2 separate regions of the Homo sapiens genome follow, and region 2 is linked to region 1. Evidence: fine-mapped expression QTL. A gene starts in region 1. The other region holds a variant in brackets. All regions are shown on one strand. Distances are between the middles of the regions.

The links.
Region 2: its variant is fine-mapped to the expression of KIAA1143 in whole blood (INTERVAL, PIP 0.94).

Annotation. Positions count from the first base shown.
Region 1 is chr3:44,753,930-44,770,292 of GRCh38, forward strand. KIAA1143 reads right to left here and starts at 7,690. Exons shown (of 3, transcript NM_020696.4): 1 at 7,566-7,690; 2 at 295-439. The coding sequence starts at 7,673. It overlaps KIF15 (kinesin family member 15), which reads left to right and starts at 7,865. Exons shown (of 35, transcript NM_020242.3): 1 at 7,865-7,955. The coding sequence starts at 7,937. RefSeq lists enhancers at 6,203-6,845, 7,636-7,915.
Region 2 is chr3:44,417,119-44,433,481 of GRCh38, forward strand. LINC01988 (long intergenic non-protein coding RNA 1988) reads left to right here and starts at 10,804. Exons shown (of 4, transcript NR_144436.1): 1 at 10,804-11,040; 2 at 11,437-11,506; 3 at 11,729-11,823; 4 at 11,948-12,411. ZNF445 (zinc finger protein 445) reads right to left here. Exons shown (of 8, transcript NM_181489.6): 8 at 14,587-16,363. It also overlaps the pseudogene C3orf86P. RefSeq lists an enhancer at 7,726-7,865. The variant G/T (reference allele first, on the strand shown) is at 8,365.

The sequences.
Region 1 (16,363 bases):
GGTTTATAAGTCTAACCATCTATTTAAAAAAAAAAAATAGGATGCTTTTACTTAAATTCACACTTAATCCTGGTAACAACCCAATAGGTACAATTATTTCCATTTTACTGATGAGGAAATCGAGGCTGAGAGGTGTAATAACTTGCTCAAGGTTACACATCTGGTAAGTGTCAAAGCTAAGGCTTGAACCCGGAACTGCCACCTTGAAACACACCACACTACTAAATAAAATAAACAATTTCATACCCTGGGCTCCTTAAATTGTTAGAAAAACCAGATTACTTTTAGACCTACCTGCTTTGGCAGCCTTTATTTCTGCTTTAATTTTCATGACTTCTTCAACTGACAGGTCTCCCTTTTTTAAAACCACCACTTGAGGCTGTTCATCTTCTTTGTCACTGTGATCCCCATCTTCATCTGGGGGCTGAGGCTGAATTCTCTAGGGAAAAACACAAATACAATGTGTAGATCACTGATCTTGAGACAAACAGAACCACTGCCTCTAAGAGAAACTGTAATTATTTATGAGAAGGGTATCTTTATTGAGTAAATAAGGGCAATGAATTTTAAGGTAACTCCAAAGAGACTTAGCTTGCCACACAAGGGAACAGGTTTAACTGCCATTCAGCCTGGAGTGCCTGTCCGGTGGGATTCATTTCCATCTCAGCAGGACCCAGCTTGTAGTTACTAGTGTGAGGGACCCTCTGCTTTGGGTACTGCTGTCACTCCTAGCCTACTCAGGGCAGCACTGTGCCATGTCAGTTGTTTGCTCCTCATCAGCACTTTTTGCCTGTCTCTTCTCTGAGTTAGACAAGAAATAAACACCATCAAAGTACAGAAAGCAGCAAGTAAAACGTACTCTCTCTCTCACCTCTGCTCATCTTTTCCCCCTCCTAATAGCTTCAGTTTGGTGGATATTCTATCAGCTATTTTCCACGTCTATACAACTATGTAGGTACATAAAACTTTTTGTATACCAACAACACTGTACTTATTCCTGTGACTTGCTTTTTCCCTATTTATGAAATTTCTCAAACATAAAGTACAGAGAATAACATAACAGAAACCATGTACTCCCTGTATATGTGTAACAGATGGTAATATTTTGCCAGTTGATTCAGATTTTTGAAATGTGAGACACCGTAAGAGCCCCACTCCCACAACTTAACTCAAAAAATATCTTTGTACAGTACTTTAAGATATAGAATTATCTGATTTTTAAAAAATCACTGCCTTGCATTTAATTACATATATGGTCACCTCAAGATTTATTTGACCAGCATCTTGTAAATACAAATTTTGCTCGTTTCCAGATTTTTTTCTACTATGAAAAAACCTCATGCACCCATTTTTGCTCACTTTTGGGAACTTGTATGCAAGAACTTTTAATGTTAACAGTTCACTAGAGGTGGAACTGTTGGGTTGAAAGGTATGCATACCAAAATATGTTTTCATATGTTATTCAAACACAATCACTCATTACTCCACTTCTCATAGAGACTTCCTGGTCTCCCAAACAAGGCGACAAAGCCCTGCAAGAATTAGCCTCAGCCCATAACCACAGCTTTATCCTGTACCACTCTCTCATGGCATCTAGACTCTGGCATGGCAAGGTTTGAGTACTTGGAGATTTATAAATATATTAGCTCCTTTGCTTCCCCTGTCTCTGAACAAATTCCTACGGCTTATTAAGCCCCACAGCCCCTGAGCAACTCCTACTCAAGCTGCCTTCCAGATTTAGAGCCTCTAGAAGTGCTTACCTAAATCTCACCTTCTCTTGTTTCTTACACTGTGCATAGCTCATAGGTAGCATGTATTGCACTGTGGTACCAATGTTTTTCTGCTGGTTTCCACTGGGCAAGTGCCTTCTGGAGAGGCACAAAGCCTGGAAAACAGCAGGGACTTCCAGAAATATTTGTTGATCTACTCATGAATGACCAACAGAATGGAAAATGATGAACTACATGAAGCCCTGGCAAGTTGCTTGTGCCATTTTAACTATAACTCAAGTTCTCAAGTCTGCTCTATCACTGCACAAGTACATTCTCTTTAATGGTATCTATGTTAGTTCACTGATTATTCATCAGTTTCTGCCAATTTTTCTCTGAAAGTCTCCAATAAATGACCACAAATAGGTAGTAAGTATTTTTAGCCAAAAATATGGGAAAGTGAAATAAAATCATTCCTTTTGTTTGTTAAATTGAGAATAATTAATTCTGACTCTCTTCTCTTTTTTTCTTTTTAAATGTGACTGCCTGGAAAACAAGAGAAATAGTCTAAGGACAGTGGCAGTAGCCACTGATGACTGTTCAGAGACATTTCTGAATTAACTCTCAAGAAAGTGAATAGGGCCAGGCGCAGTGGCTCATGCCTGTAATCCCAGCACTCTGGGAGGCCTAGGCAGGCAGATCACTTGAGGTCAGCAGTTCAAGACTAGCCTGGCAAACATGGTGAAACCCCCCGTCTCTACTAAAAATACAGAAATTACCTCGGTGTGGTGGTGGGCACCTGTAATCCCACCTACTTGGGTGGCTGAGGCAGGAGAATTGCTTGAACCCAAAAGGTGGAGGTTGCAGTGAGCTGAGATCGAGTCACTGCATTTCAGCCTAAGCAACAGAGAAAGACTCCGCCTCAAAAAAAATAAAAGTGAATAGGATGATTTAGCTTAATTATGGAATGATTTCCCATGAAACTCATTTCTTTTTGTTAATAGATGACTAAAATCCTGACTGCAGTAGTCCCCTCCTTATCCTCAATTTCATGTTCCACAATTTCAGTTACCTGTGGTCAACTGTAGTATGAAAGAAGGGTGAGTACAGTACAATAAAATATTTAGAGACAGCAAGCAAACAAGCAAATTCACACAACTTTTACTAGAGTATATTGTTATGATTGTTCTATTATTAGTTACTAATCTGCTGATATTCCTAATTTATATAGTAAACTTCATCATAGGTATATATGTATGGGAAAAAACATAGTATATATAGAATTCAGTATTATCCACTGGGGGTCTTGGAACATAATGGGGGAATACTGTATATTGCCAAACTGATTAAAAATGAAGTGGTTCTCACACTGAAACATGGCGTACTTCTCTAAGGGAAATTCCCTTGAGTACATAAATAAGCGAAAATCACTGATATTACTTGGAAAGGATTCCCGAAGTTCTCTTAAGATAGCATTCCAAGCTGTAACCTTCAAGCTGTCAACTGTGCATACAGGGTCATCACCAGGACCTCAAGCAAGGTAAAGCTGGGTCTCATCTTCTCCTCATCGCTCAATCTATGTCCCTTTTCTCAAACCTTACCCTCTTTGTCATCATCCCTATTTTTAGTCATGGGGATCAGTCATTCCCTGTGTTACCTCTAAGAAAAAAATGGCTCCCTGTTGCTTACTAAATAGTCCACATGGCCTCACCTCCACTAGCCCCTCTAACACTTCTACATACAGTCCATGACTCTCAAATCTCTACACCTTTACCCATGCCATTCTCTTCATCTCTACCTGCTGACCTAACCATGCTCGAGAGTCTATCTAAATATCCCTCCTCCACGAAGTCTAACCTGATAACAGCACAGTCACCAACAAATACAACTGTTACCCACTACTTCGTGCCAGGCACTGTGCTAGGTGCTGGGAAAATACGGAAGGATTAAGATACTAACTTAAAGAGTTCAATCTAGTGGTGAAGATAAACAGGAAAGCAAGTAGTTGCAATATAAAATGAATGTTATAGATAAGATATGGATAAGGTAAAGAGAAAAACAGAAAGAGTAACTGTTTGGAGAGCTTTGAAGGGTTTCGGAGAGATGGTAACTTGTGAAAATAGGGCAGGAAGTGTTAAAGAACATGGCATTTTGGAGATCCATCTCTTCGTCCTTTCAGAGCCTGCGACAGTGCATGGGGTTAGCACATACTCATTCTACTGGCATACCTTGAAGATACCGCAGATTTGGTTCCAGACCACCACAACAAAGCAAGTATCAAAATAAATTGTCACACAAATTTTCTGGTTTCCCAGTTCACATAAAAGTTATGTTCACACTATACACTAACTACAGTTAGTATTAAGTATGCAATATCATTATGTCTAAAAAAATCTAGATCCCATTAAGTACACGATTCATGGGAGGAGGCAAAATATCAACATTAACAGGAGTCTGGAAGATGTACCTACCTTAATTTAAAAATACTTTATTGCTAAAAACATTAAAAATCATCTGAGCCTTCAGTGAGTCCTAATCTTTTTGCCAGTGAAGGGTCTGCCCTTGATGCTGATGGATGTTGACTGATGAGGGTGGTGGTTGCTGAAAGGCGGGGTGGCTGTGGCAATTTTTAAAAATAAGACGATGAAGTTTGCTGCATTGAGTCTTCCTTTCACAAAAGATTTCTCTTTTGTGATGCTGCAATGCTGTTTCATAGCATTTTACCCACAGCTGAACTCCTTTCAAAATTGGAATCAGTCCTCTTAAACCTGCTGCTGCTTTACCAAGTAAGTTTATTCTAAATCCTTTATTGACATTTCAACAATGTTCACAGCATCTTCACCAGAAGTAGATTCCATCTCAATAAACCACTTTTTTTGCTCATCAATAAGAAGCAACTCATCTGTTCAATTTTTATGAGACTGCAACAACTTAGTCACATTTTCAGGCTCTACTTCTAATTCTAGTTCTTTTGCTTGTTCTACCACACCTGCAATTACTTCCTCCACTGAAGGCCTGAATCTCTCGAAGTCATCCATGAAGGTTGGAATCAACCTCTTCCAAATTCCTGTTAATGTTGATATTTTGCCCTCTTCCCATGAATCATGGATGTTCTTAACGTGTTTAGAATGGTGAAGCCTTTCCATAAAGTTTTCAATTTACAATATCCAGATGCATCAGAGGAATCACTATCCATGGCAGCTGTAGCCTTACAAATGGTTTTGACTTTTTTTTTTTTTTTTGAGACAGGGTCTGGCTCTGTTACCCAGGCTCGAGTGCAGTGGTGCAATCATGGCTGACTGCAGCCTCAACCTACCTGGGGTCAGGGAATCCTCCCACCTCAGCCTCCCAAGTAGCTGGGACCACAGGTGCATGCCACCACACTGGGCTAAATTTTGTATTTTTTGTAGAGATGGGGTCTCACCATGTTGGCCAGGCTGGTCTTGAACTCCTGGGCTCAAGCAATCCACCTGCCTTGACTTCCCAAAGTGCTGGGATTACAAGTGTGAGCCATTGCGCCTGGCTGTTATTTCTTAAATAATAAGACTGAAAATAGAAATTACTCCTTGATCCATGGGCTGCAGAATGGATGTTGTGTTAGCAGGCATGAAAACCCCACGTTAATCTCCTTGTAGATCTCCATCAGAGTTCTTGGGTGACCAAGTGTATTGTCCATGAGCAATAATATATTGAAAGAATCTTTTTTTTTCTGAGCAGTAGGTCTCAACAGTGGGCTAAAAATAATTCAGTAAACCATATTATAAAGAGATGTGCTGTCATCAAGGTTTTGTTTTTCCATTTCTAGAGCACAGGCAGAGTAGATTTAGCATAATTCTTACGGACCCTAGGATTTTTGGAATGGTAAGTATTAGCTTCAACTTAAAAGTCACCAGCTGCATTAGCTCCTAATGAGAGAGTTAGCCTGTCCTTTGAAAATATGAAGCCAGGCACTGACTTCTCTCTAGCTATGAAAGTCCTAAATGGCCCAGGCATAGTGGTTTTTGAGAGGCTTTGAGAGGCTAAAGTGGGAGGATTGCTTGAGTCCAGGAGTTTGAGACCAGCCTTGGCAACACAGTGGAATCCTGTCTCTACAAAAAAATACAAAAATTAGCCAGATGCGTTAGTTCATGCCTGTAGTCCCAGCTGCTTGAGAGGCTGAGGCAGGAGGATCACTTGAGCCCAGGAGGTCAAGGCTGCAGTGAGCTGTGATTGCACCACTGCACTCTAGCCTGGGCGACAGAGTGAGACCCTATCTCAAAAAAAAAAAAAAAAAAAAAGTCCTAGATGGCATCTTCTTCCAATAGAAGGCTGTTTCATCTACATTGAAAACCTGTTTAGTGTAGCCACCTTCATCAACTATCTTAGCTAGATCTGAATAATTTGCTTCTTCATCTCATACTTTTATGTTATGGAGATGGCTTCTTTCCTTAAACCTCATGAACCAACCTCTGTTAGCTTCACACTTTTCTTCTGCAGCTTTCTCACATGTCTCAGACTTCACAGGATTTAAGAGTTAGGGCCTTGCTCTAGATTAGGCTTTGGTTAAAGGGAATGTTGTGGCTGGTTTGCTCTTCTATCCAGACCACTAAAACTTTCTCTGTATCAGCAATGTAGCTGTTTTGCTTTCTTGTCATTCATGTGTTCAATACTGATCCCTCCGGCCCTAGACAACAATAGTCAGGTGTGGCTCTTTCCTGAAGCTCCTCTTCTTCTATTTAGACCCAGGATATTTACGGCTTCTGCTTACTCTTCTTTTTTTTCTTTTTTTTGAGACGGAGTCTCGCTCTGTCGCCCAGTCTGGAGTGCAGTGGCGCGATCTCGGCTCACTGCAAGCTCCTCCTCCTGGGTTCACGCCATTCTCCTGCCTCAGCCTCCCGAGTAGCTGGGACTACAGGCGCCCGCCACCATGCCTGGCTAATTTTTTGTATTTTTAGTAGAGACGCGGTTTCACTGTTTTAGCCAGGATGGTCTCGATCTCCTGACCTCGTGATCTGCCGCCTCAGCCTCCCAGAGCGCTGGGATTACAGGCGTGAGCCACCAGGCCCGGCTTTTTTTTTTTTTTTTTGAGACGGAGTCTCGCTCTGTTGTCCAGGCTGGAGTGCAGCTGCGCCATCTCAACTCACTGCAACGTCCACCTCCCGGGTTCGAGCGATTCTGTCTCAGCCTCCGGAGTAGCTGGGACTACAGGCATGTGCCACCATGCCCGGCTAATTTTTGTATTTTTAGCAGAGACGGGGGGTTTCACCATATTGGCTATTGGCTCTGCTGGTCTCGAACTCCTGACCTCAGGTGATCCGCCCACCTAGGCCTCCCAAAGTACTGGGATTACAGGCGTGAGCCACTGTGCCCGACCTTCTCTATATTATTTTTATTTATTTTTAATTAACAAAGCATAGAAACAGATTCAGGACATTCCTCCGAAGACGTTCCAGACTCGAGTCCTAGGACATGGTTGGGGCGGGGGTCATTTGATCGAGTGGCCTGTGTCCTTATCTGGAATACGGGACGACGCTGTAACTCTAACTCACCCTGCGAACTCACAGCTTTTGAGGTAAACAAGTGAGAAAGAAGAGACAATAAAGTGATCTTTCTTTACCATCTACCAAGGACCAGGTGGTTTACACGTCAGTTCATTTTCAGGAACACAGCAGCGCTCTGAAAACTACAGAGCTTCCTGGGCGTAGGGGGCTGTGGTCGCTTGAAAAGAACCAGCCTGGGGGTCCGAGTTCCACCGGAATTGGGTTCGAGCGCGGGTGAAAAGAGGGACCCGACAGCACCCACCCTCCAAGTAGAGGCAAAAGTTGAAAGTGGCGGGCTGGCTGCGCTTCCGAAGAAACACGACTGGCGAAGGCTCACCTTAGTCTCTACGGTGGGTCCCTCCCTGTAGCCGACCCGTTCCTTGAAGCGGGCCAGAAACGCCGGCTCGGCTGGCCGCACGTACGATACCTGGTTCCGCTTGCTCATGGTAGCTCTGGGTAAAGACAGAAGACAGGTTCCGCGACGGATTCGCGACGATACAGAGGCGCTTAGCTGTGACGTCACTGGGCCACGCCCCCGATGCGTAGGCCGGGCAACATGGCGGCCTCCATGCGGGCGTCAACGTCCGATCCAAGCGCCAAATTCAAATTTGCGGCCATCTTGAGCGGGCGGAATTCAGTCGCGCGCGGTGCAGTCGGGAGGTGGAGGCACCGGCTGCATTGTTTTCGGGATCGAGGGGTGAGGGCGCTATGGCACCCGGCTGCAAAAGTAAGTCTGGGCCCCCGGCTTCGTTACCCTATTTTTGCCCCCAAATACAGCTGTGAAAGGATGGCAGCCTCGGACCGCCCGCAAGGTTCTTGCTAGGCATGAACTGCAGGAGCTGAGTGACCGGCGGGGACGTTTGGGAATCCCGCTCTGTCGCTCAAAGACAATACGCTAGCCGAAAAGCTCATCCCTTCCTTCAGTGTCCTGTGCGCATGCCAGGAGTCTGGCGCAGTTCTAGGCGCTCGGGATGAGCAGTGGACCTGACGTTCTTCCCTTTCTTTCCCTTGGTTCTGCTGTTTCTTCGCAGGCCTCTTCCCACATCCCGACCAGGGCTACCTCTCTAGATATCCTTGTCTCAGGATCGGCTTTTGCTCCCACCAGCTTCTGCGTATTTCTACATTTCTGACCTTCCTATAGGGAAGGGTTTATTTATATTCCAAACATTTCTTTCTCCTCTTTCCTTAAATAAATGGAATGTTAAAACACAGATGTCAGCAATGTCTTTATGTTCTCACAGTCTCTATTTTCACTTAAAGGAGACCCGTCCGATTTCTTTCTCTTTTTCACGGAGGAGAGCACTGTCATTTTGCTTATGATAAACCCTACAGTTTTCACTAACGTAGTCATTTGCTGTGCCTGTGTACGTGCTCCACTTCTCACATTGCCACATCTCTTAAGGAGTCTTATTTTTGTAAACCTGATTATGAGCTGATTTAATGGGATCTTTGTGAGTGGTCTGAATGGTAATGAGGAGAGGCCTGGATTAGATGATTAAGAATTTGTGAACTTCTGTCATTTGAGCTTTCCAACGCCGTTAATGTTTCTAGCTTTCTGTCAATTGTAGTCGTTTTTGATGGGTTTGTTGTTTCATTAATCTTTTAGGTCGATCACACCTAATCGGAACACCTCCTTATGCTACCTTTTTGCATATAAAATATTCCTTTTCCTTTCATCATTTTCAGTATTCAAGGACTATGAGCTCACAAAATGGTACCTTATTGGAGAGAAATGTTCATCCTGCTTTCTGAACAATCATACTGTTTGTTCTTTGTTTCCACTTTATGGATCAGTCACTAAATCTGGACTCAAGCAAAAAATTTGATGCCTGTTAAATAAGTAAAACATCTGCTTATTTAATGAGATATATGTATGTGACTGAGGGCTCTTGTCTGAAAACCAAATTTGAGAACCTTTCTAAAGTGGTGGGAGCACTCTCCTTTATGATGGTGGTGATGCCATGGGGAACTTTTCCACTCCTTTAAGTTTGTTGGCAAAATTGAGGTTGATGACTTCCCAGTTAAAGTGCTTCTTGCATTCCCAGCAGCCCAGAGGCCTGGAGCATGAAGTGGGAACACATGGGAGAAGAGAGCCCGTGCAGTGGTCTTTGCAACTTTTACTTTGTGCCCCGAAGGCTATCTCTCTCTCTCTTTTTTATTTTTGAGACAGAGTCTTGCTCTATTGCCGGGCTGGAGTGCAGTGGTGCGATATTGGCTCACTGCAACCTCCGCCTCCCGGGTTCAAGAGATTCTCCTGCCTGAGTCTCCCAAGTAGCTGGGATTACAGGCACGCGCCACCATGCCCAGCTAATTTTTTTATTTTTAGTAAAGCCGGGGTTTCACTGTGTTGGCCAGGATGGTCTCGATCTCCTGACCTCGTGATTTGCCCACCTTGGCCTCCCAAAGTGCTGGGATTACAGGCATGAGCCACCACACCCGGCCCCATGAAGGCTATCTCTAGTGACATCATTGACACCATGAGTTGCTGACTGTGAAATCAGAGAAATGAAAAAGTGAAATATACGATTCCCCCCTTTTTTTTTTTAAAGACAGTGTTGCTCTGTCACCCAGGCTGGCTGGAGTGCAGTGACGCAATCTTGGCTCACTGCAATCTCCACCTCCTGGGTTCAAGCAGTACTCGTGCCTCAGCCTCCCAAGTAGCTGGGACTACAGGCGTGCACCACCATGCCCTGCTAATTTTTTGTATTTTAGTAGAGACAGGGTTTCACCATGTTGCCCAGGCTGGTCTTGAACTCCTGAACTCAAGCAATCCACCTGCCTTGGCCTCCCAAAGTGCTAGGATTACAGGCGTGAGCCACTGCACCTGGCCTAAGATTCCCTTTCTGAACCCAATCATGTTTGGGCAAATGACTGATGAGTATTTATCTAGACTGCAGAGTAAAGCATCCAATGGTCTGTTTTAAAGCAGGAAGACTCTTTAAAAGACTTACTGTTTTGTTGAGGTATAGCTTCATGCAGTTAAGGGCACAAATCTTAATATTATTCAACAAATTTTTACATATAAATACACTAATGTAACCACCATCCAGATCAAGAAATAGAACTGTTCCTGTACTCCAGAAAGTTCCCTGTGACCCTTCCTAGTCAATAACTACCTGATCCCCAACCATTACTCTGATTATTATTATCACTGATTAGTTTTGCTTCTATTCTTGAACTTAATATAAATGGTACAGTATGTATTCTTTTTTTATTCTGGTTTCTTCAACTGAACATTATGTCTGTGATCATTGTCCATCATTGTATGTAGCAGCAGTTCTTTTTCATTGCTGTGTAGTGTTCCATTATGTGAGTATACCATGATTTGTTTATTCTCCTGTTGATTGACATTTGGGTTTTTATTATAGTTAGGGCTGTTATGAATAAAGCTACTGAGAATAGACTTAAGCATATTTTTAGATGGACACATAGAGGACCTCAAAGTTGAAAGAATTTTACAGTGAATGCCTATAGACTTCATTTTTTTCTTTTCTTTTTTGAGACAGAGTCTTGCTCTGTCACCCAGGCTGAAGTGCAGGGGTGCGATCTTGGCTCACTGCAACCTCCATCTCTGTTCAAGTGATTACTCCTGCCTCAGCCTCCTGAGTAGCTGGGACTACAGGCAACCACCACCAAGCCTGGCTATTTTTTATATTTTTAGTAGAGGCAGGGTTTCACCATATTGGCAAGGCTGGTCTCAAACTCCTGACCTCAAATGATCCACCCACCTTGGTCTCCCAAAGTGTTGGGATCACAGGTGTGAGCCACTGCACCCAGCCTAGACTTCCTTTAAATGTCAAAATTTTATGACAGCCACATGATAAACTTTTATACTCTCTTTAACCTTTGATCAAGAGGTAGCATATTGAGGTGGTTAAGAGTAGGAGATCTGGATTTAGCATGCCTTCGTTCAAATCCTAGCACTTCTCAATGATGTTTCCTTAGATCTCAATTAGAAATAATGCCAGAACTATCTACATTTGTGTAGTTTTAAATTTCACTTTCTCTCGCTATTTGCTTATTAACTTTTCTTCTTTTTTTATCAAGTAAACATTTTACTTTGGGTTCCTTTTAGATTTACCAGAAAGTTGCACATAAGTGCAGATCAGTATCCATCTAATCATTTTCCATCTGATCAGTTACAGAGATCTCTGCAGAAATGAAGAGCTGGCAGCCTACCTTCTGGGGCTTCTTATTGTTGTTTGCTTGTGTATTTGCTTAGCAACTGGCTGGATCAATTTAGTGAAGTCTATTTCCCTCCTATACTGTTAAGCCTTTGATATTGCTCCTCAGGAATCCAAAGCTCCAGCTTTGGATATGCCCACCTTTATCCTGGGATGACAGTGGTTTTGGTAGGGATCTCTTTCTTTCTATGACTGCACACAGCTGTTAAACTCCAGTAATTGTTAGCTGATTGCTCTATTGTTTTTTAACAATGCCCTGGGCATAAATTGTCTTACAAACTACTTCAATTCTTGCTCCATTGAAGGAGTAGTTTTTGAGGTTTTCTTTCATATTTCTTGTGACTCCAGTGTAGCTACTCCTAATTGTCTTATATCCCCATTGTCTTCTGCAAGTGAACAGGCCTGCAATTTAGCTTGTATCTTGAATGTCTTCCTAATTACTTTCACTAAAACCTACACTGTTCCTGAGAGTGCCCTTAGGTTTGAACTTCTCTCCACCCCCTCTCCCCCAGACGGAGTCTCGCTCTGTCACCTAGGCTGTACCACAGTGGCGTGGACTCAGCTCACTGCAACCTCCACCTCCTGAGTTCAAGCGATTCTCCTGCCTCAGCCTCCCAAGTAGCTGAGATTACAGGCATGTGCCACCATGCCCAGCTAATTTTTGTTTTGTATTTTTAGTAGAGAGACGGGGTTTCACCATGTTGGTCAGGCCGGTCTCAAACTCCTGACCTCAAATGATCTACCTGCCTCGGCCTCCCAAAGTGCTGGGATTACATCATGAGCCACCACACCTAGACAGGTTTGAACTTCTCTATGCTTTGTTGCAAATGAATTCAGCTCCTTTGGGAAGAGATTAGGAGTTATCTGTTTATGGGCTGATTCTTCCTTTAGGCAAAATCTCAGAGCCTGGGGACTTGAGTTGGGGATGGGGATAATGGCAGTCTTGTCTCTGAGTGATACCCTTTGTAGTTGCTGAGCATTTTGTGGGGAAGGTGGGGAGTGTAGCAGCCCACCTTCTAGACTTTCCTTTCCTTGTGCAGAACCACTGCCTAATGAGTTGGGGCAAGGGTGATCAGGGCCCCAGTGTTCTTAGCATGCAGTTGCAAGATGAGGGCTGTGTGGGAGAAGGGAGAGCCCTCACCTCTCAACCACACTTGTCTGGGACTTTATCTGAGCATCAGGTAGCTAGCTGGAGACACAATGATACACTGACATCCTGCTACTCTGTGGAGGAACCCCTTGCAATTAGGAGCTGGAGGGATCCCTGTGTTCTTGGCTGCTGCAATCTACAGTGGAGTGTTTGCCTTGCTGAGATGGGAGGGAGACAGCAATCTTGTTTCAAATAACACAGGATCAACTTTCTTGATGAATTTTCATGAATGTTCTTGAACAGATGTTTCTTGGTTTGCTGTTTGTCTTTGGGAACATTTCCAGAGGCTTTAATTTTCTTTTCTTTTCTTTCTTTCTTTTTTTTTTTTTTTTTTTTTGAGATGGAGTCTCACTCTGTCTCCCAGGCTGGAGTGCAGTGGCGTGATCTCGGCTCACTGCAAGCTCCGCCTCCTGGGTTCACGCCATTCTCCTGCCTCAGCCTCCTGGGTAGCTGGGACTACAGGCGCCTGCCACCATGCCTGGCTAATTTTTTGTATCTTTAGTAGAGACGGGGTTTCACCGTGTTAGCCAGGGTGGTCTCGATCTCCTGACCTCGTGATCCGCCCGCTTCGGCCTCCCAAAGTACTGGGATTACAGGTGTGAGCCACCGTGCCCGGCCAACTTTCTTTTTTTAAATTTCACCAGTTTCACTGGGGAGTGGGTCAGTGGAATTCCTCATAATGTCATGTCAGAAGTCAATCTCTGAACTCTTTTTTAACAGAATTATTCTGCCCGCTAGGTTGAGAAAAGATGAGAGTGGGGGAGAAAGAGAAGCAGAAAGACTATTGTAATAACACAATAAAGAGATATTGCTGGCTTGGTTCTACACTGTGGCAGTGGATTTGGCAAGAAGTTGTTGGATTGTGGGTATATTTTGAAATTAGAGCCAAAGCTTTGCTGAGATTGGATACGAAGAGTGAGAAAGAACAGGGTCAGGGATGACTATATGGTTTTTGGCCTAAGCAACTGGAAAGATGGAGTTAACGGAGATGTAGAAACACATTTGGGCTAGAGGTGGGGTGATCAGGAGCTCAATTTTGGACACATTAAATTTGATTCATTGCCCACTGCATATCCAGTTAGAGATATCAAATAGGTAATAAGTTGTAAGAGTGTGGAGCTCGGCTGGGCGTGGTGGCTCACGCCTGTAATCCCAGCACTTTGGGAGGCCGAGGCGGGTGGATCATGAGGTCAGGAGATGGAGACCATCCTGGCTAACAAAGTGAAACCCCGTCTCCACTAAAAATACAAAAAATTCTCAGGGCGTGGTGGCAGGCCCCTGTAGTCCCAGCTACTCCGGAGGCTGAGGCAGGAGAATGGCATGAGCCCGGGAGGTGGAGCTTGCAGTGAGCGGAGATTGCGCCACTGCACTCCAGCCTGGGCAACAGAGCGAGACTCCATCTCAAAAAAAAAAAAAAAAAAAAAGGAGTGTGGAGCTCAGGACAGCAGTCCAGGAAGGTTTAAATTTGTGAATCATCAATTTGTACCTAGTATTTAAAAACAGGCCAGGCATGGTGGCTCACTACTGTAATCCCAGCACTTTGGGAGGCCAACGCGGGCAGATCACAAAGTCAGGAGATCAAGACCATCCTGGCCAACATGGTGAAACACCGTCTCTACTAAAATACAAAAAATTAGCCAGGCGTGGTGGTGCACCCTGTAGTCCCAGCTACTTGGGAGGCTGAGGGCAGGGGAATTGCTTGAATCTGGGAGGTGGAGGTTGCAGTGAGCCAAGATCGTGGCACTGCACTCCAGCCTGGTGACAGAGCAAGACTCCGTCTCAAAAAAAAAAGAAAAGAAAAGAAAAAAAAAACCACTGATGCAAGATTTTTTGCTCCTTAGCTCAGCTAAAATCCAAGTTCGTGTTGCATGACCAGGAAAAATCAGGCACGCGGACACATCGAAAGATGAGGAGAGTGGAATTTATTAAAAGGAAGCTCTCAGTGAAAAAAAGTGTGATACACCAGCTGAAGAGGCCAGGCTTCTCCCCCTGCATAAGGTGCAAATTCCCAGTGGCTCCACTCCATTCTCCCAGGGCGCATGTGGGCCTTTAGTCTGAGCCACTCCACATTGATTTATTTTCCTTACTGCGCATGTGTTAAGGGACAGAATTTTTCAGTGACCCGGCAGGCGTTTGGCTGTCTCCTGTCTCTATCATTCCCCACTCTAAAGAAGTACATCTAACTGCCCTTAGAATAAAGATAAGGACAAAGACCAATCTTAACTGCTTCCTGCTGACAGGGGGTGCTGTGTTGGGAAAATGGCAGTCAGATTTCCCTAAGAGGCCAATCTAAAGGTTCCTGGCAAAAGGGACCATTATCTGAGGCTCCAGTTGCACGACTGGAGTTTGATGACCTGAAGGCGAGAAGAGACAAACTGAGTTATTAGAAAACATGTATCAAAACAAAACAAGGATGGGGTAAGGACAGAAGTCATGCCAGAAGTCATGCTCGAAAATCCCGAGGCCTTTTACTGGTTTGCACAGGGAGAGGGAGGCCAAAAGCCTGATTGTTAAAAGTTAAAAAAAATTTTTACCCTTTTGCTGGCTTGTCAGTCTTCGAGGTTCCCTTCCCCCAAGCCCAGTCCTAAGCTATTCTCAAGTTTAAGGTTTGGGAAATTAACTTTTCGCAGTTTAGAGGATGGATCCAAGGGGAGTGTGCTGTAGTAAGGAGACACAATTACCTATCTGTGAAGAGAGGACACAAGGGGAAAAGGAAAAAAGAAGGTGTTTTTTTCAAAGGAGTCCCAGGGGTTCAGGATGTATTCAAAAAGGCCACAGACTGAAGATGAATGGCAATCCATCAAGAAAGAGGGGAGCAGGTGTCCCTGGTTCCTTTCTCTTCCTAGTGAATACCCAGGGTAGGTGAGGGAGGGAGAAAGTGACGTGCCCCTTTTCATTTCTTCTGTCCTTATATCCCCAAGACCTGGGTGATCATCAAAGGGTGCCACCCATGAATGTCAAAGCGGCTTTCCCCCATGTTAACAGGGCTTACCCACGTACGCCCTATCTCCCCTGCTGTCAGTAGCCTTCAAGTTCTCTAGACCTCATTTATGTCGTGGATACTAGCATGATGTTTATCCATGAAACAGGAGGCTTGGCTTAATCGGCAGGAGTTAGTCATGCTCACCTGTGCTGTGCTTTTTAACTTCTGTTACCGTCTGCTTCTGGATCCCTCAGATCCAGTTTTTTTTTTCTTAGGGCTTTGACCTGAAGTTGGGAATTGAGTTTGGGACCAAAAATATGTCTCAGGGGTTGTATGGACTCCTTATCATAAGCTGAATGCTAAGGTGAAGCTGTGAAAGGGGTCCTCCTCCAAGGGAAAGAAAAGGATGCCCTGTGACACACCCAGATAACTGGTGGCTATAGTTATGTTTGCTAAGATTTGGGTGCATGGAGCTTGGCTTTGGTTAGCTCCCTTGGTCTTACTTTCCCAAAAAGGAAACCTCTGGATGACAGGCACTGTATTTATTCCCACCACCTAGCAGGATTTGCAGGATAATTGCTTAGAACTAGAATATTGATTCAGATTTTTACATTACCCATCCCCCTTTGTTCCTTCTGGGCTGTAGTTGGAGATCTCTGGTTGGATCACAGGCATAAGCAGGGTTAGTTTTTAAACGAACTAGGCAAAAAACTTGAAAACAACTAGTGGGTCTAGAATTTAATGATGATAAGTTTTTAAACATAATTTATCTCTCTCCAGTCCTCAGTTTTCTTAAAAACAAACCATGATAGGACTGAGTTGTTTGCAAAATAGACTTTGGTCTTATACTTGGCTTGATTCTTTGCATGAAGTGCAGC
Region 2 (16,363 bases), 340 kb before region 1:
CTGCCCACCCTTCACACTTTCAGAACTGCACCCCCTGCTCAAACACCTTCTGTGGCTCCCCAGGACGGAAGAAACAGTCGCAGCTCCTCAATGGGTCTCTTAAAAGCTGCCCACTCCCATCTCACCTCTTCCTGCCCATATCTGCGGCTGGACCTGCTGGGCCAGCCAGCGCCATGACCTGCTCCGTTTCAGCTTCCAGCCTCCATAGCTTTGCTCAAGCTGTTCCTGCCCTCCAGGATGCCCTCCCCATGCCTCAGGACCCAGTGGCTCCTCCTGTGCCCCACCTCGGCCCTCAGAGCCAGGCACACAAACTCTGCAACTGCATTGCACGGAGCTCTGACCCAGGGGGACTTGTCCTTGACTCCAGGCCTGCAAAGAAAAGCAAGAGGGAGCATTTCACATGGGAGAAGCCACTTGAGTGGCTGGGGGAGAGGCACAGAGCTGGGAAAGAGCAGATGTGAGAGCAGGCCTTGAGTCAGAAGGCACTAGAGATGGTGAGGGAGCAGATAAGGTGGCTGGGGGCAGAGGACTGGGTCTCTCCCTGAATGCCCCGTCCTTTAGCCACACCTGAAGACACATACCCAGCAGCTGGGGGAGGAAGGGGAGGACAGCGCCTGGATGCCCCTGGACAGGAGGGTGCTTGGCTCAGGCCACTCCCAGTCCTGGTAGGAGTGTGTGGTCAGTAGGACCCTGTAGCCATCTGCAGCCTGGGAGGCCCTAGCAGGGCTTGCCCAGACTCTGCTTGCATGCCTGCAGTGATGGATCGCTCACTCACTTACCAGGCAGCTCACAAGGTGGGGTGCAGCTCTGAACAAGCAAAACCTCTTCCGAATGGAACTGAAATCTGCCCCTGGGGCTCCCCATTGAGCTCCCCACTGACCCCACGGTCCCTGTGGGATAGCCCCTGCTAGACCCTGTGTCTCCTCCTCCAGACCTTGCAGTCTCAGGACACTCAGCTCTTCTCCAGGAATCACCTCCTTGGTGCACAACCCTCAGATGACCTTGATATGGTTTGGCTGTGTCCTCACCCAAATCTCATCTTGAATTGTCGCTCCCATAATCCCCATGTGTTGTGGGAGGGACCTGGTGGGAGATAATTGCCTCACGGGAGTGGTTTCCCCATATTGTAGTGAATAAGTCTCACAAGATCTGATGGTTTTATAAGGGGTTTCCCTTTTCATTTGGCTCTCATTCTCTCTTTGCCTGCCGCCATGTAAGGTGTGCCTTTCCCCTTCCCCCATGATTGTGAGGCCTCCCCAGTCACGTGGAACTGTGAGTCCATTAAACATCTTTTAAATTACCCAGTCTTGGGTATGTCTTTATCAGCAGTGTGAAAACAGACTAATACAGACCTGGAACCCCCTCACCCTTCCCTCATCTCTGCCCCAAACAGGCCACCACCCCTTGACACAAATTCTGCGTGGGAGACATGAAAACCTGAGATTTGGGCTTTACTCAAAACATCACCCTATCAGAGCCACAGTGCAGCAAGTTCAGCTCACCTGAGTGGGATCTCAGAACAAACCCCCAGGAGCAAGTCAGCTGAATGCATGGCCTGGGCACCCTCCCTGCCCAGGCCTGACAGCTTTTGTCTCTATGGTCTGTGATCCCCAAGGACACTCGACTCCCAAGATCCCCCCAATTCCCACTCCTGCCACTGGGGGCAGAATGTGAATTCCATGACCAAATAGCCCCTCTCCTCACAGTTGTGTTTCTAGAGTCTCTCCACCTCTGACCCTCCATCTCCTCATCTTTCAGGGAGTGGAAGAATGCGATCACCCACAGATCCCTACTCATCCCACTTCCATCCCCCCTACCCTTTCCCTACCACACACACAAACATATCCTGGCCTGGGGTGAAGTTGCTGATTTTATTAACTGCAAGGCCCCCGTCATCCAACACAGGGCACCAAGCCCACGTGAGGGGGCCCACACCCACTGTCGGTTGCCTTTCTGGATTAGAGACTCTGAGAGCTCAAAGTGATAACTGTCTTGGAAATGGGCAACAAGGCCAACTTTGATAGGAAACTGCTGCCCAGGTTTTTTCATACATCCACTGTCAGCAGAAGTGGCCCTGCCAGGCCACAGGGCAGAGCACGGTGGCTCGTCCAGGGGATTTGTTGCCCTGGAGACTCTGCTGGTGTACATTGAGCCCTGATCCCCACCCCAGCATGAACTCAGATTCCTGCTGCAGGCTGGGCTTGTATCTCTCTGGGCATTTCTATGACACTGGCTGGGGCTCTTGTGGGTTGGAGGAGCATGAGGCTTAAGAGCCCATGCTGGGTTAGGATTGGAGGCCCTGGTCCCAGTCACTCTGCCTGAGAGACCCACAGCCCCTGCCCTGGCAACCTTTCCCTCCAAGGCCCAGGGCCCAGATGACCTTGCAGGCTCCGGCCCTCCCTCTGCCCTCCAGCCTGGCCTGCTCTCCGTTGTTTGCTGGCCGTGTTGCCATGCACAAGTGGATGTCCTGGAGCACCTCATGAGTGCCCACCAGCAGTGACACCAAGGACTTCATCAAGGCCACCCTGCAAGGGGCACAGGGAGTGCACACCAGTCCTCCCGCCCACCCTGTGGAGCTGATGGGCCCTGCCCTCTCCCACCCTCAGAAGCAGCCAGGCCCTCGGGATCAGCTGACCCCAGCCTGGGGCTGACTTCCATGCTACCTCTTGTTCCCAGTGTTTGTCATAGCCTGTAGGTTGAGCAGGCTTGACAGACTGGCTTGCTCACTCCCATATTGTGCAGGGAGGAAACTGAGGCCAAGGTAGGCAGAATCCTGCCGACGTCACAGGACGTAGTGGCCGCAGATTTGAGGTTGGATCCCAGGCCCATGCCCCCAGCTCAGAGAACTCTCAGAAGGGTCAGGGTCCACCATGGGCCCATTTCCTGGAATAACATAGAAGCCCTAGTCGGAAAGAGACACGGAGCCACACCCTAACCTTTGACCTCTGACCTGCCCCACCTAGGATGAAAGCCTCTGGAGGCCTGGGTCCGGCCAAGAATCAGATGAGACCTGGGAGCCGCCTGGGTGTGATGATTCCAGGGCTGGGCTGGTGCAGCCTGCTGAGGGGCAGGGGAGGGTGTTTCTCCACCAGGACTCTGTGGTTAGGCACCCATGAGCCGGGAGCACCAGGATCTCCTCTTTTAGGTAGCTCTGTTCTTCCTTGCCCTCAGAAGTCCACTTCCTTGGTACCCAGCAACTCAAGCTCCTCGTGGCAGGGCACAGTGCTCCACTGGCAAAGCCGAGGATGCACTGCAAGGCTGGCTAATGCTCAGCGATGCCGGCCAGGCTGCACGTCCGATTCTGGCCACACCTACCTGCCGTTGCTCTGCATGCCCCACTCCTCTCTAGTGTTCCTGATGTACTTGAAGTCCATCCTGATGACGCATTTCACCTGGAGCTGCTCCGGTACAACTTGGAGCCACCTAGCACCTGTTCAGGGACACTAGTGGGGCTTCTCCAGCAGCTCCTCCTCAAACCAGGTCACTCTGTGTGCCCAGGCCAGGTCTGTGTCCTTCCCCCAGGATGCACTCCTGTACCCCCGAGGCTTCCTCCAGCCCTCAACCAGCCTGATCAAGGAGGGCCAGGTCTGTGATGGGGCTGCTTCCCACACTGCCTGAGTCACTCCATGCCTGGAGGGCTGAAAGGCAGTACCCAGAGAAAGCACAGAGCTGGGGATGGGGGTGACCCTACCTAAAAGTGTGGTGTCCACTGCTAGCTTCCTCCAGCCTCAGGCTGTCTCAAAAGGGAGCTCCATGCAGGGCCCCAGCCCCTCCCTGCCCTGAGTGCTGTCCTCAAGCCCAGGAGGCCCCAGGCTGTGCCCCAGGGACACTGGGCCTGCAGGTCCGTCATCCTGGCTTGTTCCCATTCCCACCCAAGGAGGTCTCCTGGCTCTGGCTGGAAACTAAACATATTGCTTTGACACCAATGTCAGAAGCCCAAAGAATTAAGAGTAAAATACCAAGATGGCTTGGTATTTTAAAGGAAGTTAAGGGAAGCTCTAGGAAACGTTATGTCAAAATCTAAGTAAAATTTTACTGGGTTTGAAAGCACTGGGCATGTTCCTGTGAGACCCCTGGGGTGAGTCCTGTGCTTCCAGGGAAGGTAGATGGGGCCAGGCAGATGCGGCCAGCAGAGCCTGGCCACGGGTGGCTCAGGAAGGTGCTTAAAGAGTGTAGCCAGACAAATTTTCTTAAGATTCAAAAGGAAAACCAGTTATTCCCAGTAAGGACATTGTTCAGCTTGCAGGTGAAGGCCCAGGGTGCAGAAGGGCTGAGAGGAGAGGTCGAGACCGGTGGCTGAAGGGCTGGTCCCAGGGGTCCGAGTATGGGCAGAGTCACTCCTGGTGATGAGATGGTGACAGGGATTGCTGAGAACGGTGGGGGCTCCTCACTCCTCCGGCTTTGGCCTGGCCCAGGTGGGTGCAGATGGGCAGGGGTTTCTTGAGCCTGAGTCTTTCAGAGAAGGCTTAGATGGAGGTGCAAGGGCAGGCCTCTGTGCAGGCGGGCCCTGGGGACTGCAAGGAGCCTCCTGCACACTCCTGGGCTGAAATGGGGGCTTCTTTTGTGGGCTCTCAGGAGAAACAGCAGGTGCATCTGCCTTCTGCGGGGGGTAGGTGATTTCTCCGCTTATCTCGTTCACCCAGAAAAACATGTCTAGAGGTTCCTGTCCCTGTCCAAACTGACCTCTAGACATACCTAAAAGGGAGAAAAGTGAGACAACACAGGTGGGCCTTCCAGCCTCCATATGTCGGGTGGAGGGTCAGGGGGAACTGCCAGGGCCTGGGCTTCCCTCAGCCTGAACCTTTCACCAGGGGACTCACTCTCTCCCGGAGCACCAAGCCTTCCTGGAACAGGAAGCTCTAGCCTCCTAACTGGAAGCTCCAGATGAATTCTAGGGTCATTTTCTTCTTAAATGGTCTTTTCAAAATATTTTCATCTTAACCAAGTATACTAAGTATACTTTACGTCCTGACCTAGTTCAGGGATGTGTGTGTATACTAACAATTTCATGGAACGTAAATAGTTATGTACAATAGTCTCTGATATTTTCAATTCTTTTTATGTAATTAAATCTACTATATTCCTTAAGAAAATGCTGATTGCCATTCGAATTCATTTTGTAAGGAAAGCAGCAATGATGAACCATAGCTTGAAAAACACAATCTTCAATTAAGAGAAGGATGGAGAATCTGATACAAAAGAAGACCAAAAAAATCACTCTTGCAAATTTTACACAAACATGACCATGTGTGGTCAGCAGAATTGTCCCCCAAAGATGGCCCTGCCCTAATCCTTGGAACCCACAACTGTGTTTCATTATATGGCAAAAGGGACTTTGCAGATGTAATTAAAATTATGGACCTTGAACTAGGAATATTATCCTGGATTATGCAAGTGGCCCAATCTAATCACTCGAGCCCTAAAAAGCAGAGAGCTTTCTCTGACTGGCATCACAGAGATAGATGCAGCAGCAGGAGAAGTGAGAGAGATTCTAAGCATGAGAAGGACTCAACCCACTGTTGCTGGCTTGACAATGGAAAGGGCTTACTGGAAACTGTGTCAACAAAATGAGCTTGGAAGTGGATGTTCCCCAGAGCTCCCAATAAAAGCTGGAGGTAGACAAAACCTTGATGTTAATCTTGTGAGACCCTAAGCAGAGCCACACTTGCTGACTTAGGGACTTCAGTGGTATGAGATAATAAATGGGTGTTGTGGCTGGTTCGATGGTTCATACCTATAATCTCAACACTGGGAGGTGGGAGGATTGCTTGAGCCCAGGAGTTCCAGACCAGCTTGGGCAACACAGGGAGAACTCATCTCTACAAATAATAATAATAATAAGAAGAAGAATACAAATAAATTAGCTAGGTGTGGTGGCATCCACCTGTGGTCCTAGCTACTCAGGAGGCTGAGGTGGGAGAATCGCTTGAGCCTGGGGTGGTCAAGGCTGCAGTGAGCTGAGATTGTACCACTACGCTCCATCCAGCCTGGATGTCAGAGGGAGACCTTGTCTCTAAATAAATTAATAAATAAATAATAAATAAATGGGTGTTGTATCAAGCAGCCACACCTGTGGTCATTTGTAAGAATAAGTCATTTCCTGGTCAGGCGCAGTGGCTCACACCTGTAATCCCAGCACTTTGGGAGGCCAAGGCGGGTGGATCATGAGGTCAGGAGATTGAGACCATCCTGACTAACACGGTGAAACCTGTCTCTACTAAAAAAAAAACAAAAAAATTAGCCTGGCTTGGTGGCGGGGGCCTGTAGTCCCAGTTACTTGGGAGGCTGAGGCAGCAGAATGGCGTGAACCTGGGAGGCGGAGCTGGCAGTGAGGCGAGATCACGCCACTGCACTCCAGCCTGGGTGACAGAGTGAGACTCCGTCTCAAAAAAAAAAAAAAAAAGTCATTCATTTCCCATTCTTACAAATGGCCACAAAAGGAAACGCCTATGCCATGTGAACACGTTCTCAGAATAAGTACAGGAGGCAGCCTGCAAGTCTGGGCGACTCTTCCTACTTTCTTTCCATCAAATTCCTTCACCTTCTTTAGAACAGACACAATGACTGTCAATCCTGAGAAACTTCAAGGTGCGCTACCTAGAATATCAACCAGCTCAACCAGAAGCTGATCCTGACACCTGTGTCCTACAGGAAGTTCTGATTTGCTCAGGTGGAGAGGATTTCCCCAGCATCCCCTGGTGGCCACAAGGCCATGGGGGAGTCAGCACAACCTGCAGAGATCCCCTGGTTCAGGGTGGGTGGAAACAGGGGGTTCGGGGGCTGAACAGTTAGAGGCTGGCCAGGAGCTAGGGAACTGGATAGGTATGAAGGGTTTGAAGCTTACCTGTCGGAAGGTTCTGGGGTGGAGGAGTCTGTGGAGGGAGCTTCAGAGAGCAGGAGGGGCATTAGAAGGCTGGGGCCCCTGCAATCTAATCTTTGTTGTGTAATGCGTTTCCCGCCCTATCCCAGCCTAGCTTCTGCCTGGTGATCTCAGACCCCTGCAGGGCAGCTCCCCACTCACCCCTGCACCATCCTCGCTGTCACAGTGCCTGATGCCCCAAAACTGGAAGTGTGCCTGCCATTGCCTTTCCCTGCCTGGTTTCCAGCAGTCCCATCACATGGCTCCAAAAAACAGCATCGGGGTTTTTTTCTAGAACCCAAATTTATAAACAAGGGGCAATGTCCTCTGACAAGGTTGGTTTGTGCTCAGTATAATGGTAGCCAGGGCTACCTGGATCAGGAACATCTTGTGATCCCCTCCCTACTCCCCTGGGTCTGGCTTGCTGGGCCTCACACCCTCTTCACACCCTGGTCTCCCTGAGAATTAGATGCAGCTCCCCATGTCACCAGCTGCTTACTGGGACTGCCCAGCCCAGGCCCACCTTGAATCCTCACCACGTTCCCCACTCTATGGACCCAGCGGCTGCTGTGTGTCCCATGGAGCCAGCCCATGGTGCTGGCAGAAGATGGAACAGTCGTCCTCCTGGGCTGGCCCCAGGTCACCCAAGCAGGCTTTTCTCCTCTCCTCACCTGCCTGATGGTGCCCACCCGATGTGGGGCAGTCCACAGGGCTGCTGGAGCTTAGTGAGAAATGAATCCCTTCCCAGCCCCCAGGGGCTTGCCCAGCAGCCTTTCCCCATTGGTGCTAGTAGCCTTGGGCCTTCCCAGAGACTGCTGCAGGCCTGTCCGTAGCATGAGGCCATTGCTAAGGTGAAGGAGAAGCCTCTGTCCCCTCTTCCCTCCCTGGCTCAGCTCACCTGCTCTGGCAGTGTGCTTGGTGAGGCCAGGTGTGCTTCCTCCCTTCCTCCCCAGGGCCTCTCCACCTCGGTCCACACAGGGGCAGTTTCCCCAGGAAACTCTAACTCATTCCATTACCTTCCCCCAGCTGATCTTGGAAACCCCCTTGCTGTGAATATTGGCAAGCTTAAGAGCTTATTGCCCCCACCATGGCGTCCAGCTCTTGATCAGTGTGCTTTGAGGGCTTTGTCTTCCAAGCCTTGGACAACCCTGAATGCTGGTTAGTCTTTGGCTGGCTCCAAGACGCAGTGTCACACAAGTACCACCCTGTGGACACGCTGAAGTTCCCATGGAGTCTTTTCTATCGAAAACTCAGCCTCTTTCAGGCCAAACACCGGCTCCCTTCATGTGCATAGCTTTCTAACTGGTACAATTTCCCCAAAGATAATTTAGAATTATAGTGATCACTTTGGGGAAACTCTGATATATACAAAACAAAAACAAAGCAAAATTCTGAATATCCAATGGTCTGCTGTCTTTAATTGGTATGAGGAGGCTCCTAAACACAATTTGGACTCAAAAAATGCTTCTCTAAAATATTCTTTAGCTATAACTAATATGAAATAG[G/T]AGCATCTTTTCCCTCATGTGCATCTTTTTTTTCTTTTTTCTTTTCTTTTTTTTTTTTTTGAGATGGAGTCTCACTCTGTTGCCCAGGCTGGAGTGCAATGGCACCATCTCAGCTCACTGCAAACTCCTTCTCCCAGGTTCAAGTGATTCTCCCGCCTCAGCCTCCTGAGTAGCTGGGATTACAGGCCTGTGCTACCACGCCCAACTAATTTTTGTATTTTTAGTAGAGATGGAGTTTCACGATGTTGGCTAGGCTGGTCTCAAACTTCTGACTTCAAGTGATCCACCCACCTCAGCCTCCCAAAGTGCTAGGATTACAGGCATGAGCCACCGTGCCCGACCAAGCATCTTTAAAATGTTGACATTTCCAATGCCCTTGCCACATTTTGTGAAAGGCTTCAGGTCCAAAACTGTCACTATGTTGGGTAAACAAAAATGTTGGCTGGCAAATCACTCTATTGCATAAACATCAATATTTGGCTAAACATTTTTTTTTTTTTGAGATGGAGTCTCGCTCTGTCACCCAGGCTGGAGTGCAGTGGCGTGATCTCAGCTCACTGCAAGCTCTGCCTCCCCGGGTTCACACCATTCTCCTGCCTCAGCCTCCCAAGTAGCTGGGGTTACATGCGCCCGCCACCATGCCCGGCTAATTTTTTTTGTATTTTTAGCTAAGACAGGGCTTTACCATGTTACCCAGGATGGTCTTGATCTTCTGACCTCATGATCCACCGGCCTTGGCCTCCCAAAGTGCTGGGATTACAGGCATGAGCCACTGCACCTGGGCTTGGCTAAACATTTTAAGGAGACTCTGGATATCAAGAATAAAAGACCCCTCATGAGGAAAATCTTTGTCTTGTTTGCCTAAATGACAGATCATTTTGTTTCACAGGGAGGCATCACTTCCTTCCTTTCCATAAGTTGGAGATTAATACATTCTGGCTTTTAAAAAATTGTATGGCTTGATAGAATTGTCACAAACTGAAATTATGTCAAAACCAGATATAGGACACTCTCGTGTGTGTATTGTATATATGTCTAAACTTTCATCCCTCTTCTTACAGAGAAAAATGATTAGTTATTTGTCTAAAGCCAGCTCCCTCTCATTTTTTTTCTATCCCATTTCCTCTCCTTTTCCCTCTTTTGAAAACTTAACAAAATGAAAGACTTAACAAAAATTACATTCAGCCGTTATGCATATATTCTAGGAATTTTTAGTTCAGGTAAAGTCTAAATTGTCTAAAGAAAAAAGTTATTGAACTATTTTTTATGGACACTAGAAAATGTATTTCCCTGATAACCTTTTAAACTAGCTATGACAAAAGAAAAGACGCCAACTTCAAAATAAAGGAAAATGTTAGCATGATTCACTCCTTATTAGTTTATTTTTTTAAAAAATGTTAGTACAATATTTTGGCTTATTCCAGACCAAAATTAGATTTCTTATAATTCAAACTTCCTAAATTTCCTACATTAATTTTATTTATTTATTTATTTTTGAGATGGAGCCTCACTCTGTCCCCAGGCTGGAGTGCAGTGGCACAATCTCGGCTCACAGCAACCTCCACCTCTCAGGTTCAAGCGATTCTCCTGTCTCAGCCTCCCGAGTAGCTGGGATTACAGGTGTGTGCCACCATGCCCAGCTAATTTTTTGTATTTTTAGTAGAGATGGGTTTTCACCATGTTGGCCAGGCTAGTCTCAAACTCTCGACCTCAGGTGATCCACCCGCCTCGGCCTCCCAAAATGCTGGGATTACAGGCATGAGCCACAGCGCCCGGCCCACATTTATTTTGTAAATGAAATGTTTTCATCATTTCCATAACTTATTTAAAATAAAAAATTTTGACCGGGTATGGTGGCTCACATCTGTAATCCCAGCACTTTGGGAGGCCAAAGCAGGTGGATCACTTCAGGCCAGGAGTTAGAGACCAGCCTGGCCGACATAGTGAAACCCCATCTCTACACCAAAAATACAAAACTTAGCTGGGCGTGGAGGCACACGCCTGTAGTTCCAGCTACTCGGGAGGCTGAGGCACAAGAATCGCTTGAACCCAGGAGGCGGAGGCTTCAGTGAGCCGAGATCATGCCATTGCACTCCAGCCTGGATGACAGAGCGAGACCCTTTCTCAAAAATAAATAAATAAAGTAAAATAACAGATATAAATTCACCCTTGAAATATAGAGCACTCTCAAAAACTGAATTGACTTGACTCTCCCAGAAATCGAAGCTCATATGACTAAAATAATTGCCCTCACCCAGGCATGCCAACTTGTGAAAGTGAAGTATGTAGTTATGCTGGTAGTAAAGGGGCTTTTGTCCACAAATTCAGAGTGCTTAGAGAACCCCAGGGGAGGAGCTCAGTGGGTGGAGTCTCCAGAGATTTGCCTTGGAGGCTGTTGGGACAGCAGGAGTGAGTGCTGTGATTGGCTGGGACCTCGATGTCACAAAGGTCAGGGACAGCTGCCAGAGAATGAAGCAGAGGGCTGTGGGGTGAAGGGACTGCCAGTCTTCTGCCACTCCTTTTCGTGGTCCTTCCCTTCACTGCCTTCCTTCTCCCAGACAGACTGGGCATCCAGTTCCAATCCAAAGGCTGCCCCTTTGACCAGGCCCATCTTCTCCACCTCACATCAGACAGCCAATCGGCTGCCCAGACCTCGAAACCTCAGTAACCTAGAAGGTAAGGACTTTCAGATTTCACCAGGAAGGATTATCCCTTCATGCCTTATAAAAGTAACAGAACCGGTCGGGCACAGTGGCTCATGCCTGTAATCCCAGCACTTTGGGAGGCCAAGGCAGATGGATCACCTGAGATCAGGAGTTTGAGACCAGCCTGGCCAACATGGTGAAACCCCCTCTCTACTAAAAATACAAAAAATTAGCCAGTCATGGTGGCACACGCCTGTAGTCCTAGCTACTTGGGAGGCTGAGGCAGGAGAATCACTTGAACCAGGGAGGCGGAGGTTGCAGTGAGCCAAGACCTCATCATTGCACTCCAGCCTGGGCAGCAAGAGTGAAACTCTGTCTCAAAAAATAAATAAATAAATAAAAACTAATAGAACCTATCAATTCATAGGAAATGGACCTTGGCAAACGTGTGTCAGGAGAGGATGACTTGGAGGTGTCCACCGTGTTTCTTACTGAAGGTTTGTTCAAACCTAGAAATTCACTTGGGACAGCTTATGAGCCCTCTCCTATTCTTGGGAAAGCTTTTAAATTGTCTGACAAAGTCTGTACCCCTGGAGCATGGGTTAGTTTGTTGAAGTCCACAGACCACACAGTTTCTTTGAAGGTGTGCAGCATGAGGGTGAGTTCCTCTATTGCCCACTGATGGAGAACTCACTTAGGCTGTCTTTTCTCTCCTTCAGATGTCTAAAAGTCAATTGGGGTCAAGGAACAAGCCTCTACTCACATGCATGTGGGCAAATGAAGTCACAGAACAAATAACCTACCCTGCATCCAGGTTAGATCCTCCTGCACCATTTCCTGCTTCTCTGCGGATCCTGCAATGTGGACCCCTGTCTGGATGTGGTGCTGGGGAGGTGGCTCCTCCCTGTCCCAGAGGCCCATCTCGTGTTCCCACACAGGCACGGAGTCCAGGGACACCCCCTGCTGCTGCCTAAGAGAAAGTGGCCCAAGAAGCACTGGCCCGGTGCCTGCTGATGCCAGGAGCCCTCTGCTACTGCCTGACACAAGCATCCTGCGCTTCCCCCTCCCAGGCCCTCCCCGAAAGCGTGGGCCACAGGTACCACTCCCTATGCCACTGAGCCCCACATTTCCCATCCCCCAAGCCACTCCCACCAGCCCCAGAGCTTTCCTACATTTATGATTTGTCCAAAAATGTGATGCCCTTCAGCCCCCAGAAGGTCATCCTCCAGGCTGTGATCGTCACACAGGGGGTCCCACATGGGGTCCTCACAGGCCTTCAACCCAGCACAAATCGTGGCCTGGTTTGACCTTTGAAATATCTCAACATCTAAAATTCAGAGCTTTTTTGGAATATTTATTTTCCATAGATATAATTCTTTCAAATAAATTCCTTAGAAAACAATATCCAGTGTTTCATTATTTGTGCTAACATGTGCTTTTCCCATTTTGGAGATGAAAAATATCATTAGAAATAAAAACTCAAGGGACAGATTAAACATCAGATAAGATGCAGTTAGCAGGCCGGGCGCAGTAAAGGTTGCAGTGAGCTGAGATCGCGCCACTCCAGCCTGGGCGACAGAGCAAAACTCCATCACCCACGCACAAAAAAGATAAGATGCAGGTAGCAGAGGGGCCAAGTGAACTCAAACAAGATCTGAAGTGCAATCTTCCTTAAGGAGTCCAGAGATGGGTGACAGGACATTTGAAGGAAAAGTTCCAACAGAGCACAGACAGGCTCTAGGAGATCACACAGGGAAAGGGGAGGCTACATCCAAGAGATAAAGCTGAGAATTTCCCAAAATTGATGGAAAACAGGAATTCTCAGAGTGAGGGATGCCACTGAATCCCACAGAGGATAATTGAAAACATCCACACTTAGTTACATTGTAGCAAAAGCATGAAACACTGAAGATAAACCTTGAAAGCTGCTAGGGAAAATATCTGATGAATTGAAATTAAAAATGATAAAATTTAATGAAATAGTATCATTAACATACTGAAAAAAATCAGACATCTCAGATTTGTACGTTCAGCTAATTATTCAACAATTAGGGAACTATGAAGACTTTCAAGATAAAAAGTTTACCATGAGCAGACCTGGACTACAGGAATGTCTTGCTAAAGAACGGTTTTGGTCTGGGCACTGTGGCTCATGCCTGTAATTCCAGCATTTTGGGAGGCCGAGACAGAAGCAACACTTGAGGCCAGGAGTTCAAACCAGCCTAGCAAGACCCCCATCTCTACATAAAAGTTTTTAAAAAATTAGCTGGGTGTGGTGTTACGCACCTGTAGCCCTAGCTATTCAGGAGGCTAAGGTGGGAGGATCACTTGAGGCTAGGAGTTTGAGGCTGCAGTGAGTTAGGATAGCACCACTGCACTTCAGCCAGGGCAACAGAGCAACACTCTGTCTCAAAAAAAAAAATAAAATAAAATAAAGCAGTGTTCCTTAATCTTGGCACTCTTGACATTTGGGACTGGATAATTCCTTGTTGTTGCGACAGCACTGGGCAGTGTAGAATGTTTAGCAGTATCCCCGTCCTCGAGATGGGGAGGCTGGCACCTCATGTAAAATGTTTGGCCAGGTTGCAGCCTGTGTTAGCTTGGAGGGTGGATCATAATTTGACCAAATCTGTGGCATTAGGAAAACGGCAAGAATCCAGAATGCTGGTTTTGTTGGCTCCTCCTTGGCTGCTTTTAACAAAGTCCTGTGAGAAAAGTGGTCTCTGGCTGGAGCTTGCCAGTGTGCAAGGAGAGCTAGAAGGATCCAGAGTGTTGTTAATGTAGGTAACCCCTGACTGGCCTGCCACACACAAACAGTTGAATAATTTGGTGCCTTGCAAGTTTGAAAAAAATCAGCCACTCATACACCCCAGCCAAGGCAGTTGTGAGCTGTGGCTCTGAAGAGGCAGTCTTTGTAGGAGATAGCCCTGGTGCTGCTAGCAAAGACAAGATTTTGGGTGTTGCTTCTCATAGCAAGCCTATGATATTAGTGAACATGGAGAGATCTGGCACAATCAAGCGTTGCTAAAAGGAACTCAAAGGCCTGCTACAAATTTCATAGAGCTGGACATAGGCCATCCCCAGTGAGCCAGGACAAAAACTAGGCAGAGCCCAATGTCCATAAAGTGTGGGCTGGATGGCTGAGCACGGTGGCTCATGCTTGCAATCCCAGCACTTTGGGAGGCTGAGGCGGGTGGATCACCTGAGGTCAGCAGTTCGTGACCACTCCGGCCAACATGGTGAAACCCCGTCTCTACTAAAAATACAAAAATTAGCCGGGTATGGTGGCGCATGCCTGTAATCCCAGCTATTTGGAAGGCTGAGGCAGGAGAATCACTTGAACCTGCGAGGCGGAGGTTGCAGTGAGCCGAGATACTACCACTATACTCCAGCTTGGGTGACAGAGTAAGACTCCGTCTCAAAAAAAAAAAAAAAAAAAAAAAAAAAAGAAAGAAAGAAGAAAAAAAAAAGAGTGGGCTAGAGCTCCACAGTGGTATCATCATACACAGAATACCATGATATAATGAAAATACAGCATCATCACATGCAATGACATACATAAAACTGACAAACGTAATTTTGAGCAAAAAATGCAAGACAGACAATACTTTATTACTTCATTTCTATAAAGTACAAAAACAGGCAAAAGTAAACCATATTTAAAGATGTCTATAACAGTGGTAAATACTGTGTAAAGGTTGTCGGCTACTTCTGACCTAAAGGGTGAAAACAACCACAGACAATATGTAAATGAATGAATATATCTGAAGATTATATGAAATTTATTTTTTATTTTTTATTTTTTTGAGACAGGGTCGCTCTGTCTTCTGGGCACCATTTCAGCTCACAGCAACCTCTGCCTCCTGTGTTCAAGCTATTCTCCCATCTTAGCCTCCCAGCTGGGATTACAGGCATGAGCCACTGCACGTGGCTACATGTTTTGTATTTTTAGTAGAGACGGGGTTTCACCATGTTGGCCAGGCTGGTCTCGAACTCCTGACCTCAAGTGATCCACCTGCCTCAGCCTCCCAAAGTGCTGAGATTACAGGCGTTGAGCCACCATGCCCAGCCCTTGAAATTTAAATTTCAATGTCTCTAAATGAAGTTTTATTGGAACACATCTACACTCATTTGTGTGTGTGTGTCTGTGTGTGTGTGTGTGTGTGTGTGTGTGTGTGTGTGGATGGAGATAGAGAGAGAGGGATTTATGAATTTATGATAAGGAATTGGCTTATAGAATTAAGGAGGCTGGCAAGTCCCAAATCTTCAGGGTGGATGAGCAGGCTGGAGAACCAGGAGAATACATATTCCAGTGAGAGCCCAGTGGCACCTGCTGTGGAGCAGGATTAGTAGATGGTGTGCATGAACTCTGAAGGCAGTCTGCGGAAGAATTCTCTCTTGCCTGAGAGAGAGTCTGGGGCAGCCAGACTTTATGTTCTCCTCAGGTCTTCAGGTGATTGGATGAAGCCCACCCACAGATAGAGGGCAATCTGCTTTCCTCAAAGTCCACAAATTTAAACGTTAATCTCATCCAAAGCAACCTCACAGAAACACCCAGCATAATGTTTGATCAAATACCTGGGGACCTTGTGGCTCAGCCAAGTTGACACCTAAAATTTACCCTCACACTCCAGTCCTCCAACATCCCAGCTTCCCTCTTACATCCCTGAATGGCAGAACCCAACAAGGAACCAGCTGGCGAAGCAGCATCGTGCCTGTTCTTTGTTGCCTGTGTTTTTCATTTTAAGTCGGTGGAGTTACAACCCATGGATTCCTTTGTGTCTGCTTCCTTTTCATTAAAATTCTGCTCATGGATTCATCCCTGCAGTAGGTTCATTTTCAGGTGGAAGTGTAGGAAGCACAGGAGATCACAGAAGACCTCAGCAGGCCAGCTTTGCAACATCCTAACAAGGAGACGGGAAACTGAAGTACCACAGGAAGGAGATACTCTCCATCTCTCACCACCCAAAGCTTCCTGGGATGCTAAGGGTCATCGTTCTTTTTTTTTTTTTTTCCCGCTCTGTTGTCCAGGCTGGAGTGCAGTGGCACTATCTCGGCTCACCACAACGTCCGCCTCCCAGGTTCAAACGATTCTCCTGTCTCAGCCTCCCCAGTAGCTGGGATTTACAGGTGCCCGCTACCACGCCTGGCTACTTTTGTATTTTTAGTAGAGACAGGGAGTTCAGACTGGTCTCGAACTCCCGTTCTCAGGTGATCTGCCCACCTCAGCCTCCCAAAGTGTTGGGATTACAGGTGTGAGCCACCGTGCCTGGCCTAAGCCTCACTGTTCTTTTCATCTTTCCTGCTGAGACAGGAGATTGAGGATGTGGACATTTTGTTGAGGAAAGAAATAG